3 linked regions of the Homo sapiens genome follow. The protein of the gene in region 1 interacts with the protein of each later gene in a pairwise test. Each region holds a gene or a part of one and is shown on either strand. Other genes may lie near its edges.

Region 1 (4,260 bases):
GCAAAGGGCGCGGCGAGCCCGGCGGCTCCCGGAACAAAGGACAGCAGAGCGCGCGGGGCCCGAAGGGGCGTCCGCCCTAGTGGGCGGCGGAGGGGGATGCGCGCGGAGAGGACCAGCGCGCACCGCCCCGGCCCGCCCCTCAAATCCTCCTTCCTTCTCTCTCGCACTCGGAGACGGTCCCTGGGAGATCCGGGAGGGGGCGCAGCTCGCCGTCCTCGCCGGCAAGTGCCGTCGCAACCTCCCTCTGCCGCCACCCCCACCCCGAGAAGCGCACAAAGAGCGGCCGGGCAGGGAGCGCTCACCTCCCGTCGGGGCGGGGCCGCGGGCGGGGCCGGCGCGCGCTCCGCAGCGCCCGCCTTAAAGGGCCCGCCCGCTCCTCGCGCGCACTGCGCATGCTCGGCCGCGGGGCACGGAGGGGAGGGATGGGAACAGCGGGCGCGCACGCCCGCGCCGCCCGCTGGCGCTGTGGCCTGCGTCCCCGCGGTGGCGGCGCGGCGCTCGTGCGCGTGTCAGAACCCGCAGGGTCTCGGCCCGGGCGCCGGGCGTGTGCTGGACACTGGTGCCATGCATTCCAGAGGTCGCCAGCGGCCGGGCGGGCCGAGCTCGCGCGGCAGCCAGCTTTTAGCTTTCCCATCCTCAGTTTCAGGGCCAGTTGGGCGAAGTGCTGCCCAAGGAGACAGAAATGCAGGCGCGGGCGCGCGCGCGCGCGGTTGCCAGTGTGGGCGGGCGTGTGCTTTTGTGTCTCGTGCGCTCCCGCGCAGGTGGACAACCCGCGCCGGGAGTCACTCTGCCCGTGCGCCCCAAGACCTGGAGTCCCGTTTTCCGTGTCGGAGGGCTCGGGTCGCCCTTTTGGGCGGACTACAGACTCTTCTCACAGAGGAAGCTTTGGCTCCACGGATGGTTTATTTGGAGCCACTAACGGGACTTCCTGAGGACCGCTCTTTTAGAGCCCGGCTCCAGGCATCAGAGTTGGGCGCGTTTTCTTTTCTCAGTCAGGCGAGGGAGGAGACTTAGGGACAATGATTGTCCTCGGCTGATAGGTACATCCAAGTGTCCCGAGCCTGCCAGTCCCGCATTAGACAACAAAGAGAGGCGTTAGCGGCGGCGGGGGAGGGGCGCGGCCGGGAGGAGGACGGGGCGGGCTGCGGCGAGCGCGGGGGTGGGGGGTGGCGCTCTCTCTCCGCTCGCTCAACCCGCGGCCTCCTCCCGCCCCCGGCCTGGCGCGCGCCAATCGCCTCCCCCAGCGATAGTGTCAGTAGCATTGTGGTGTCAGCTCCCGCCTGTGACGTTGCGCCTCCCTCGTCCCCCTCCGGAGTCGTCTGGCTGCAGAGGCTCAGTCAAGAGGCGGGGAGGAGAGGAGGAAAAAGCGCTGAGTGAGGGCGGGCGGGCGGGCGGGAGGGAGGGAGTGGAGGAGCCGGGGAGGGGCTCCTTAAAGAAACGCTTCTGTCGCTCGCCTGCTCGCTTTTCGCTCGGCATTGCGGCCAGCCAGCCGGGCACTCGGGGGGCACGCGCGGCCACCGCTAGAGCTCTGCCCCCACCCCACCCGCCAGCAGGTCTGGGGTGGGGACCCAGGTGGGGGCTCCTGCAGCCACTGCCCGGTGCGGACCGCACGGAGCGACCCACTCCTCCCAGCACCGAGGAAGAAGCAACGGAGCCCTCAGCAGGCGACCGGCCTCCCCGCCCCTGACCACCCGCTTCCCGGCTGCCTTTGTGGCCGCAGCTTCTCGCCGCCGAGCCGAGGGCCGGCGGGGGCGCGGCGCGCACGGCCGAGCGATGCCCAGCTCGCTGTTCGCAGACCTGGAGCGCAACGGCAGCGGCGGCGGCGGCGGCGGCAGCAGCGGAGGGGGAGAGACCCTGGATGACCAAAGAGCCCTGCAGCTCGCGCTCGACCAGCTCTCCCTGCTGGGGCTGGACAGTGACGAGGGCGCCTCTCTGTACGACAGCGAGCCGCGCAAGAAGAGCGTGAACATGACCGAGTGCGTGCCAGTACCCAGTTCTGAGCATGTCGCCGAGATCGTGGGGCGGCAAGGTAGGTCGAGGAGGGATGGGGAGGTGGGTGGGGGTGGTGTAGGGTCTCAGGCCACTGCCTCGAGGGGAAGGCGTGTTCAGTATCGGGATCCGCGGCGTGGGGTGCCTTGGGGAGAGAGGAAGAGCCGCGCGATGGGCCGGCGCCCCAGACAAAGAAAGTGCAGGCAGGCTGTCTCCCGGAGCCGCGCCGCTGCCCTGGCGGGATGCACTTTCTTCTGCTAAAATCACTGCCTTCTCCCCTAACGCCCCCCAACCAGCCCACCTCCAGAAAGACAATTTAAATGTAAGATGCTTGGGGGAGGGGGCCTTTGATCAGTCCTTTGGGAGGAGGAAGGAGGAGGAGTGAGCATAGGATGGGAGGAGGATTCTGGATTTCTGCAAAGCGGAATGGAGCCCAGAGGAGGAACAATGGGTCCCGGGACTCACACCCCACCCCCTACCCCCAGTCGACCAGCGCTGAGGCATCGCGACTTCAGCTGCCTTCCCCGAGCCCCTTCCCCGTGTCTTCAGAGCTGACGGCGCGCCCAGCTGGATCCCAGCGGCATCTCCCCAGATGACTTTTCTGGGATTCTCGGGTTTGGTTCGGGACGACTGCAGTCACTGGGGGAGGGCCAGGCAGCCAATGGGCTGTTCCTCGAGCGCCTCGCGGGTGGGATCCGCTGCCCAGCCCGTGGCGCGGCCCGAGGTCAGTGAGGGAGACGCCCCCTTTCCGCCCATCTCTTGTCCTGCCGTCTCGCTGTCCTGGACGCGGGCTGTCCCCGGTCCCCGCGGTTACCCCAGGATAATGGGCGTGTCTGTCTCTCTCTCCCACTCCCTCCTCCGCACCCTGGTTCGTAGGTTGTAAAATCAAAGCGCTGCGGGCGAAGACCAATACTTACATCAAGACCCCAGTTCGCGGGGAGGAGCCTGTCTTTGTTGTGACGGGCAGGAAGGAGGATGTGGCCATGGCTCGGAGGGAGATCATCTCTGCTGCCGAGCACTTCTCCATGATCCGCGCCTCCCGGAATAAGAACACGGCACTCAACGGCGCGGTGCCTGGGCCGCCCAACCTGCCCGGGCAGACCACCATCCAAGTGCGGGTACCCTACCGCGTGGTGGGGCTCGTGGTGGGGCCCAAAGGCGCCACAATCAAGCGCATCCAGCAGCAGACGCACACGTACATCGTGACGCCCAGCCGGGATAAGGAGCCGGTGTTCGAGGTGACCGGCATGCCAGAGAACGTGGATCGCGCTCGAGAGGAGATTGAGGCGCACATTGCTCTGCGTACCGGCGGCATCATTGAGCTCACAGACGAGAACGACTTCCACGCCAACGGCACCGATGTGGGCTTCGATCTGCATCATGGGTCCGGCGGGTCCGGCCCAGGCAGCCTCTGGAGCAAGCCCACCCCCAGCATCACGCCCACCCCCGGCCGCAAGCCTTTCTCTAGCTACCGCAACGACAGCTCCAGCTCGCTTGGCAGTGCTTCCACAGACTCTTATTTCGGCGGCGGGACCAGCAGCAGCGCAGCGGCTACCCAGCGCCTGGCGGACTACAGCCCCCCTAGCCCCGCCCTGAGCTTTGCGCACAACGGAAACAATAACAATAACGGCAATGGGTACACCTACACAGCGGGGGGAGAAGCCTCAGTGCCATCCCCCGACGGCTGCCCCGAGCTGCAGCCCACTTTTGACCCGGCTCCCGCTCCCCCACCTGGGGCACCACTTATCTGGGCCCAGTTCGAGCGGTCCCCGGGAGGCGGACCTGCAGCTCCGGTATCTTCTTCCTGCTCTTCTTCTGCATCTTCGTCTGCTTCTTCCTCCTCCGTGGTCTTCCCCGGGGGTGGCGCCAGTGCGCCCTCCAACGCCAACCTGGGGCTATTGGTGCACCGCCGGCTGCACCCTGGCACCAGCTGCCCGCGCCTGTCTCCACCCTTGCACATGGCCCCGGGGGCGGGAGAGCACCACCTGGCTCGCCGGGTGCGCAGCGACCCGGGTGGAGGAGGCCTGGCCTACGCCGCTTATGCCAACGGGCTGGGGGCACAGCTGCCTGGCTTGCAGCCGTCGGACACGTCGGGCTCCTCCTCTTCGTCCAGCTCCTCCTCCAGCTCTTCATCCTCTTCCTCCGGGCTTCGGCGTAAAGGCAGCCGCGACTGCTCCGTGTGCTTCGAGAGCGAAGTGATTGCCGCGCTGGTGCCCTGTGGCCACAACCTCTTCTGCATGGAGTGCGCCAATCGCATCTGTGAGAAGAGCG
Region 2 (3,500 bases), on another chromosome or scaffold:
TTAGCCAGGCATGGTGGCACACACCTGTAATTTCAGCTACTCAGGAAGCTGAGGCAGGAGAATAACTTGAACCTAGGAGGTGGAGGTTGCAGTGAGCCAAGAATACACCAATGCACTCCAGCCTGGGCAACAGATAAGACTGTTTCAAAAAAAAAAATTTTTGTCAATGTTAAAGAAAAGCTAATATTGGCAGGAATGTGGTGAGACTGACATCCTGACATACACAAGCAGGACTGGGGATCAGTGTCGCCTTTCTGTAAAGCACTTTTGCAGTATAAATCAGGAGCCCTTGAAAGTTCAGAAGCTCTATTTTTGTAGTTCTTGTGCTAGATATCTTTCCCTAGAAGGTTAAAAAGAAAGAAAAAACGGGGAACGTTTTAAAAAAATAGCATTATTTATAATAATTAAAATCACTGGGCATGGTGGATCACGTTTGTAATCCCAGCACTTTGGGAGGCCAAGGCGGGTGAATCACTTGAGGTCAGGAGTTCGAGACCAGCCTGTCCAACATGCTGAAACCCCATCTCTACTAAAAATACAAAAATTAGCTGGGCGTGGTGGTGTGCACCTGTAGTCCCAGCTACTTGGGGGCTGAGGCAGGAGAATTGCTTGAACCCGGGAGGCGGAGATTGCAGTGAGCTAAGATAACGCCACTGCACTCCAGCCTGCATGACGGAGTGAGCCTCCGTCTCAATAAATAAACAAAAATTAGCTGGGTGTGGTTGTGGGCGCCTGTAATCCCAGCTACTTGAGAGGCTGAGCCATGAGAATTGCTTGAGCCTGGGAGGCAGAGGTTGCAGTGAGCCGGGATCACATCGCTGTACTCCAGCCTGGGTGACAGACTGAGACTCTGTCTCAATAATAATAATAATAATAATCACAGACAATTGATGTCCAGTGATATGGAAATGCTTAAGTGAATGATAATACATCCATACTAGATACTATGACATAATGCAGCCATAAATGTCTTAAAAAAAAAGACAGTCTCACTCTGTTGTCCAGACTGGAGTACAGTGGCATGATCACAGCTCACTGCAGCCTCAACCTCCTGGGTTCAAGCAGTCCTCCTGCCTTAGCCTTTCTAGCAATGGCAATGTCTCATATTTTTTTCATAATATAGATTGCTTAAGAAATAGTGTGACATAGGACAGGTGTGGTGGCTCATGCCTGTAATTCCAAGTACTTTGGGAGGCTAAGGCAGGAGGATCACTTGAGGCCAGGAATTTGAGACCTCATTTATACCAAAAAAAAAAAAAAAAAAAAAAGAAGCAGCAGCAGGTGTGGCACGTGCTTGTAGTCCTAGCTACTTGGAAGGCTGGGGCAGGAAGATCCCTCGTGTTCGGGAGCTTGAGTTTGCAGTGAACTATGATCATACCACTGCAATCCAGCCTGTGAGATCCTATCTCTGGAAAAAAAAAAAAGAGAGAAAGAAAAAGAAAAGAAAAAATAACATGAAGTAAAAACCAGTAACAAAAATTAAAAAGCAAATTCAGCAGCACATTCTTTTAGCAGCCAGTTACTCTTCAGGTGCTTTCCATACTAATAGTCATAACAGACTTGTGAGATAGGCCCTATTTATTGTCTGTTTTATAGATGAGGAAAATGGAGCAGGAACACAGCTACCTGAGGCTGCACAGCTCATTGGAGCCATTTATGTGATTGGAGCCCAGCACTTTGGCTTCAGAGTCCTTGTTCCTGACCATAACACTCTAGCAGAGCTGGTCAGGATTCAGAGTACCTGAAAGCATGATCCAATTTTGGTTGTCTCAAGATTGTTTCTTTTTCAAGTATATGAAAAAAGGGCAGTTGTGCTAGGGTATTGAGAGTGGTTTTTTCTGGTTTATAAGATTATGGGTAGTTATTACTTTTATAAGATAAAAAATATAAAGGATTTTAAAGCATGGACTAGAAAAGAGTAAGAAAATAGACTGAAAAATAAAAGTGTGATTGTATTGAGATTATTTTTACTTCTTTTAAGAAATATTTTCTATTATGTAGATAAATTCACTCTTATAAGAAAACTTTTAAATGAATTACTGATTACAAACCAGCCATCCTAGTAATTCTGGAAGCTGATGCTCGTGTTGATTTTTCCCCCCTTGGGACAGGGTCTCACTCTGTCACCCTGCTGGAGTGCAGTGGCGCGATGACAGCTCACTGCAGCCGCGACCTTCCGGGCTCAGGTGATCCTCCCACCTCAGCCTCCTGGGTAGCTGGGAGTACAGGCACATGCTACCATGCCCAGCTAATTTTTGTATTTTTTGTAGAGACAGAGTTTTGCCATGTTGCTCAGGCCAGTCTCAAACTCCTGGGCTCAAGCGATCCGCCCACCTTAGCCTCCTAAAGTGCTGGGATTGTAGGCGTGAGCCACCTCATCCGGCCCTCATGTCAGTTTTTACAGGAGATGGGGATGCTGCTGGGCTTTGATCCCTATGTATGTGCAAGCAAGGAAAGCTCAGAGACGCAGGAGGGCAGGAGGAAAACACTAGCCGTAGTTCTCTCTGGAGGGCAGGTTTTACACAATTACTCTTAGCTCTTTGGTTTTCAGGTTTCTCACCTTTCTGCATTAGACATTGATATAATATTTGAAGCATATGAAGTGTGCTTGAGTTATTTTTGTAAGGAAAAAAAGTGTTAAGAAACATTGCTTTAATGTTTTCTATATTTTCTCAAAAGTTCTAGGCTCAGAAACCTTATTACTCTTGTACTAGTTTCTTTTCTCTCTGCCTCCACAGGAAGGAAGAGGGAATGGTTTAAAATAGAAGACGCCATAAAAGTGCTGCAGTATCACAAACCCGTGCAGGCATCATATTTTGAAACATTGAGGCAAGGCTACTCAGCCAACAATGGCACCCCAGTCGTGGCCACCACATACTCGGTTTCTGCTCAGAGCTCGATGTCAGGCATCAGATGACTGAAGACTTCCTGTAAGAGAAATGGAAATTGGAAACTAGACTGAAGTGCAAATCTTCCCTCTCACCCTGGCTCTTTCCACTTCTCACAGGCCTCCTCTTTCAAATAAGGCATGGTGGGCAGCAAAGAAAGGGTGTATTGATAATGTTGCTGTTTGGTGTTAAGTGATGGGGCTTTTTCTTCTGTTTTTATTGAGGGTGGGGGTTGGGTGTGTAATTTGTAAGTACTTTTGTGCATGATCTGTCCCTCCCTCTTCCCACCCCTGCAGTCCTCTGAAGAGAGGCCAACAGCCTTCCCCTGCCTTGGATTCTGAAGTGTTCCTGTTTGTCTTATCCTGGCCCTGGCCAGACGTTTTCTTTGATTTTTAATTTTTTTTTTTTATTAAAAGATACCAGTATGAGATGAAAACTTCCAATAATTTGTCCTATAATGTGCTGTACAGTTCAGTAGAGTGGTCACTTTCACTGCAGTATACATTTATCTACACATTATATATCGGACATATAATATGTAAATAAATGACTTCTAGAAAGAGAAATTTGTTTAATTTTTCAAGGTTTTTTTCTCTTTTAATTTGGGCATTT
Region 3 (4,015 bases), on another chromosome or scaffold:
AGCACACAGTAGATGCTCAAGAAATATATTGAGTACATGTCTTGGACTTTCCCCTCCCTAAATATTATCTGTCAAGTGGGCCTATTGGACTTGTTGACCTTGGAGGGCCCTGTCGGCTTGACCCACCAATTCGAAATGGTTGAGAAAGAGGTCTGTCTTTGTACCTTTTGCAGCCTGTTTTCCCAGTTCTTAGAACATTGGGGTGAGATCCAGAGATTTCAGAGATCCCCCTGGAACACGAGTGTTCTGTGACGAGTTCATGACCTTGGAGCCACCAACCATACCCCTCACCCGTTGTCCCCAGTTCTGGCCTTGCCGACCCACTGCGTGTTTCTTTGCTTCATGTGGGCTGTTCCCCGGGGAGGGAGCTCAGTGGAGAACAGAAAGAGGTGTGGGTGAGGGCTCCCCCTTGGTGGGGAGTGGGGCACAGGAGCCTCAGGCTCTGTTGACCATCAAAGAAGGGACTCGAGTGGGCAGGCCGCTCACTTGCTGTGGACCTTGGGCAAGTCTCTAACTCTCCCTGGGCCTTGGAAGTCAGGCCGAGGTGATCTCTGCCGCCCCCTCCCTGCCTGGGTTTTCACTCTTGTTCTGATCCCACTCTCTTCCGGGTGCCTCCCTTCCACTTCTCCGTAGCCTGTGGCTCCCCTCCCCACACCCGCCCTGGGCCCGGGTTAGGCTGGGGCGGGGGCGAGCTGCCCAGTCCAGAGACAAAGTCCAAGAGCCGCGAATGGGCTGGCGAGGGTCAACCGCGTGGCCTCTGCCAGGAAGCGCGCCGAGCGCCCGGGTGAGGAGGGCGTCAGCCAGGGCACAGCAGCTTTCTCGCCCAGCGAAGCCTGTGCGCCTTCCTCCCGCGCCTGCAGACAAGCGGAGCCCATGGGGGCCGTGGGCCCCACCTATCCCGACGTCTCCACTTGATCCAGAAGTTGTCCCAGTCCCCTTGGAGCATGAGCTGTTGCCTGGACAGCTGGGCTGTCGCCCAGGTTCTGCCACTGTCTAGCTGTGTAACCTTGAGCCAGTCCCTGCCCCTCTCTGGTCCTCAGTTTCCCCACCTGTAAAATGGGGGCACCGAGAACCCTCCTCCAGGACCTGCGGCGGGGCGGGGCGGCAGGGCGGGGGCCTCCCCGCCGCTCCCGCGCCCGCGGCTTGGGCTCCGCAGTGAGTGGGGAGCGGCGCCGGGGAAGGAGCGCTCCGCGGTCATGTGACGTCCCCCTCCCCGAACTGCGGCGGCGGCGAGCGCCGGCCGCATCTGAGCAGAGCTGCAGCGGCGGCCGCGGGCACCAGAGTGCCGAGCCCAGGACGCCCCCGGCCCAGGCCCTTGGGTGAGTGCGCCCCGCCAGGGCTGCGGCCCTGGAAAGGGGAAGGGGACAGAGGTGTCCAGACTCCCGTCGGCTCGCAGCGAAGACCCCGCGCGGGCGGGCGGGGACGGAGGGTGGGGGCGAACGCGTGGGGGACCCGGGTCTCCAGGGGCGAGGGGTGGGCGCAGCTGGGCTCGCGCAGCCCGGTCTTGACAGCAGCTGGAGAAGTGGGGGGAGGCCTGGACTGAGCCGGCTGAACCCCCAGCCTGTTGGACTTGGTCCAGGCCGCGGCCAGGGGGCTTTGGTCCCACCCCCCTGGGTGGGTGGGGAGTCCAGTTTTCCGCCCACCTCGAGGTGGGGGCGCCTGGGGTTTAGAGGAGGGACTGTGGGAAGTGGGCGCGTTTCCTCCATCCCTGGGGAGGGGCCCAAGCCCTAGCGCCCCCCAGAGGGTGGCGCTCCTGTCCTCAGAGGAGGGAAGTGGGGGCCTCAGATCAAGGACCCTGAGCGGGGAGGGCGGTGATGTCCTTGCATCCCCAGAGACAGGACGCATTCCCCTGTCCCTGACCCCCGCGGCAGAGCGGGGCACACGCGTCACGAAGTTGGGCGCCCCCTCGTCGCCTCCCCTGGCTCGGCAGGATCTGAGGACTCGGTGGGAATTCACGGGGCGGTTTCCGTGCCCTGCAGGGTTTGGTGCCAGCTGCGGGGCGCCTGGGCTTGGGGAAGAAACCTTGTGTACGCACACCTGCACACACACACAGTCTCCGGAGGTGAGCGGCCCCCTCCCTACCATAACAGACCCCAGCCTGTGCATGCCCTCGGAGTCCTTGTTGGGGTCATAGCACAGGCCCGGTGGTGGGGTCAGGAAGAACATCCACTGTTCTCAGGGCTCATTGGCCTCTGTCCCCGGGCTCCATTCCCCTCCCTGCCAAGTCAGAGGTCAGGCCCCTGGGGCGGCAGGCAGGAAGGACACTGAGGGAAGGGGCACTGAGGCAGGAGGGGCACTGAGGGAAGCTGGCCAGGTGGAAGTAGGAGAGAAAGGCAATGGGGGTGAGATGGTACCACTTCCTCCCCATATGAGGCTCTCAGGAGGCTCCTGGCCCCCCCTGCACAGGTAGTGGTCCCTCCTTCCTGAGGGTGTTTGGGGGAAAACGCTATGGTTGGGGCACTGGGGAAGGTTGCCTCGCAGATGAAACAGAACATTGGCCAAAGGTGTCCCTGAATGGGCTTCTGGACTGGCACAGGGCCCTGAGGGCTGTGGCTGAGTGGGGAGGCAGTGATCAGGTCCAGCTGGCCATGGGGGCCCCCCATTCCCTTCTCCATGACCTCAGCCTCACTCTGAGAGCCCCCAGCAGCTGGAAGGTCTGGTAAGGGGTGCGTGTTCCTTGATGGCCTTGGGAAGGGTTCCAGGGTAATGATTAATCCTCAGGTGGCACGAGCAATTTCCCCCTTCACAGCAATATTTCAGGGCAGGCGCTGAAGCCTCCATTGCACAGGTGAGGAAACTGAGGCTCGGAGAGGCTAAATGAACTGCCTGAGGTCACCTAGTCACCTTCAGCAAGGTCTAGAATCGTGGTACTCTGACTCTTGATGGGAGAAGATCTCCACAGCGGTGGAGAGGAGGAAGGGTGAACGCCGTGGTGGAGTGGTCCATGTGGACCTGCTCCCCTTTGCTGCCAGGAGGTGAGGGTGCCTGTGGCTGGAAGCTGGGTCAGGTTGAGGAGAGGGTCCAGAGTCCTAGGCTTGCCTTGCCACCCCTTCCCATGGAGGGAGGGTTGTCCCGTGGAGCACCATAATGGTGCTTTCACCCTGGGACCTTCCCAGCTTGCTTGGGCAAAGCCCTCTCCTCTTCTCTTCTTCCCAAGGTGCCTGCCTGGCAGGGGTCTCAGGAGGCCCCTCTCCTGGCTCTAACTACCTTCCACCCTTAGGAGACAAGAAGGATTCTTCCTTTGGCCTCTTGGAGGGCAGCAGGGAGAGAGGTCTCTGCCACTTAGGCCTCAGGCTCCCACAGCAGGGCCTCCACCTCCCTCTCACCTGGCCCTGCCCCTGCCCTGCTGTCAAATTCTGGGGCCAAGAGGCCCTTTGAGGACTCCTCGGGCAGATCTGTCCTCCATGCTGCCATCTGTCTACGGAGGCCTTTGTCCTGGCTGTCAGAGGCTGCTGAGCAGCCGCATGTGCTGTGCAAACAACCGAGACCTGAGCACGGCCAGACACAAACGCAAATACAGTTAGACTGACAGATACCCTGAGACCCAGACACAGGAACACACGGGCACACCCAGGCCAAGACCCCTGCCCCCGACTCTGCCTGACACACAAGCACTGAGAGTCACACCATCCAGATGCTGGCACGTGTGTACACACAGAGAGACGGAGGTTGTCAGCAAGGAGAAGAGCCTTTTCAGAAGCCCTCGTCTTCTGTCGTCTGCCTCCATTATCTCCTCCAGGGTGCACACATGGTACACGCGCATGCAGGAAGAACACGAGGATGCCCTACGCCCTTAAAAATGAACCTGGCAGACACGCACATGCACCCACCCACACCCAGGCCATCATGGGTGCACACACGCATGAATTACATCAGCTTCCTGCGTGTGGGATGTTAATGCTTCATCACCCGGGGAGGGGAGTGGAGGCCCCCGACCGTCCCCAGCAAAGCCTCCCCTTCCTCCCTCTTTTCTGATTCATGTGGACCCAGCTTGACTGGCCCCAAGAATCCTGGG

What was found. Proteins that work in one complex are often made in the same cells at the same time.
Region 2: the proteins of MEX3B (region 1) and NUDT3 interact in a two-hybrid assay, tested with the Homo sapiens proteins (one large-scale study listed by BioGRID and IntAct).
Region 3: the proteins of MEX3B (region 1) and RAP1GAP interact in a two-hybrid assay, tested with the Homo sapiens proteins (one large-scale study listed by BioGRID and IntAct).

The regions. Positions count from the first base shown.
Region 1 is NC_000015.10:82,043,219-82,047,478, reverse strand, and holds the start of MEX3B (RNA-binding protein MEX3B), read left to right. Parts: upstream 1-1,460; 5' UTR 1,461-1,773; coding exon 1,774-2,029; intron 2,030-2,865; coding exon 2,866-4,260.
Region 2 is NC_000006.12:34,288,170-34,291,669, reverse strand, and holds part of NUDT3 (diphosphoinositol polyphosphate phosphohydrolase 1), read left to right. Parts: intron 1-2,738; coding exon 2,739-2,917; 3' UTR 2,918-3,500. Other genes in the region: RPS10-NUDT3 protein, read left to right, coding at 2,739-2,917. UniProt on the Homo sapiens protein: Cleaves a beta-phosphate from the diphosphate groups in PP-InsP5 (diphosphoinositol pentakisphosphate) and [PP]2-InsP4 (bisdiphosphoinositol tetrakisphosphate), suggesting that it may play a role in signal transduction.
Region 3 is NC_000001.11:21,666,558-21,670,572, reverse strand, and holds the start of RAP1GAP (rap1 GTPase-activating protein 1), read left to right. Parts: upstream 1-1,215; 5' UTR 1,216-1,319; intron 1,320-1,979; exon of another isoform or gene 1,980-2,062; intron 2,063-2,749; exon of another isoform or gene 2,750-2,975; intron 2,976-4,015. UniProt on the Homo sapiens protein: GTPase activator for the nuclear Ras-related regulatory protein RAP-1A (KREV-1), converting it to the putatively inactive GDP-bound state.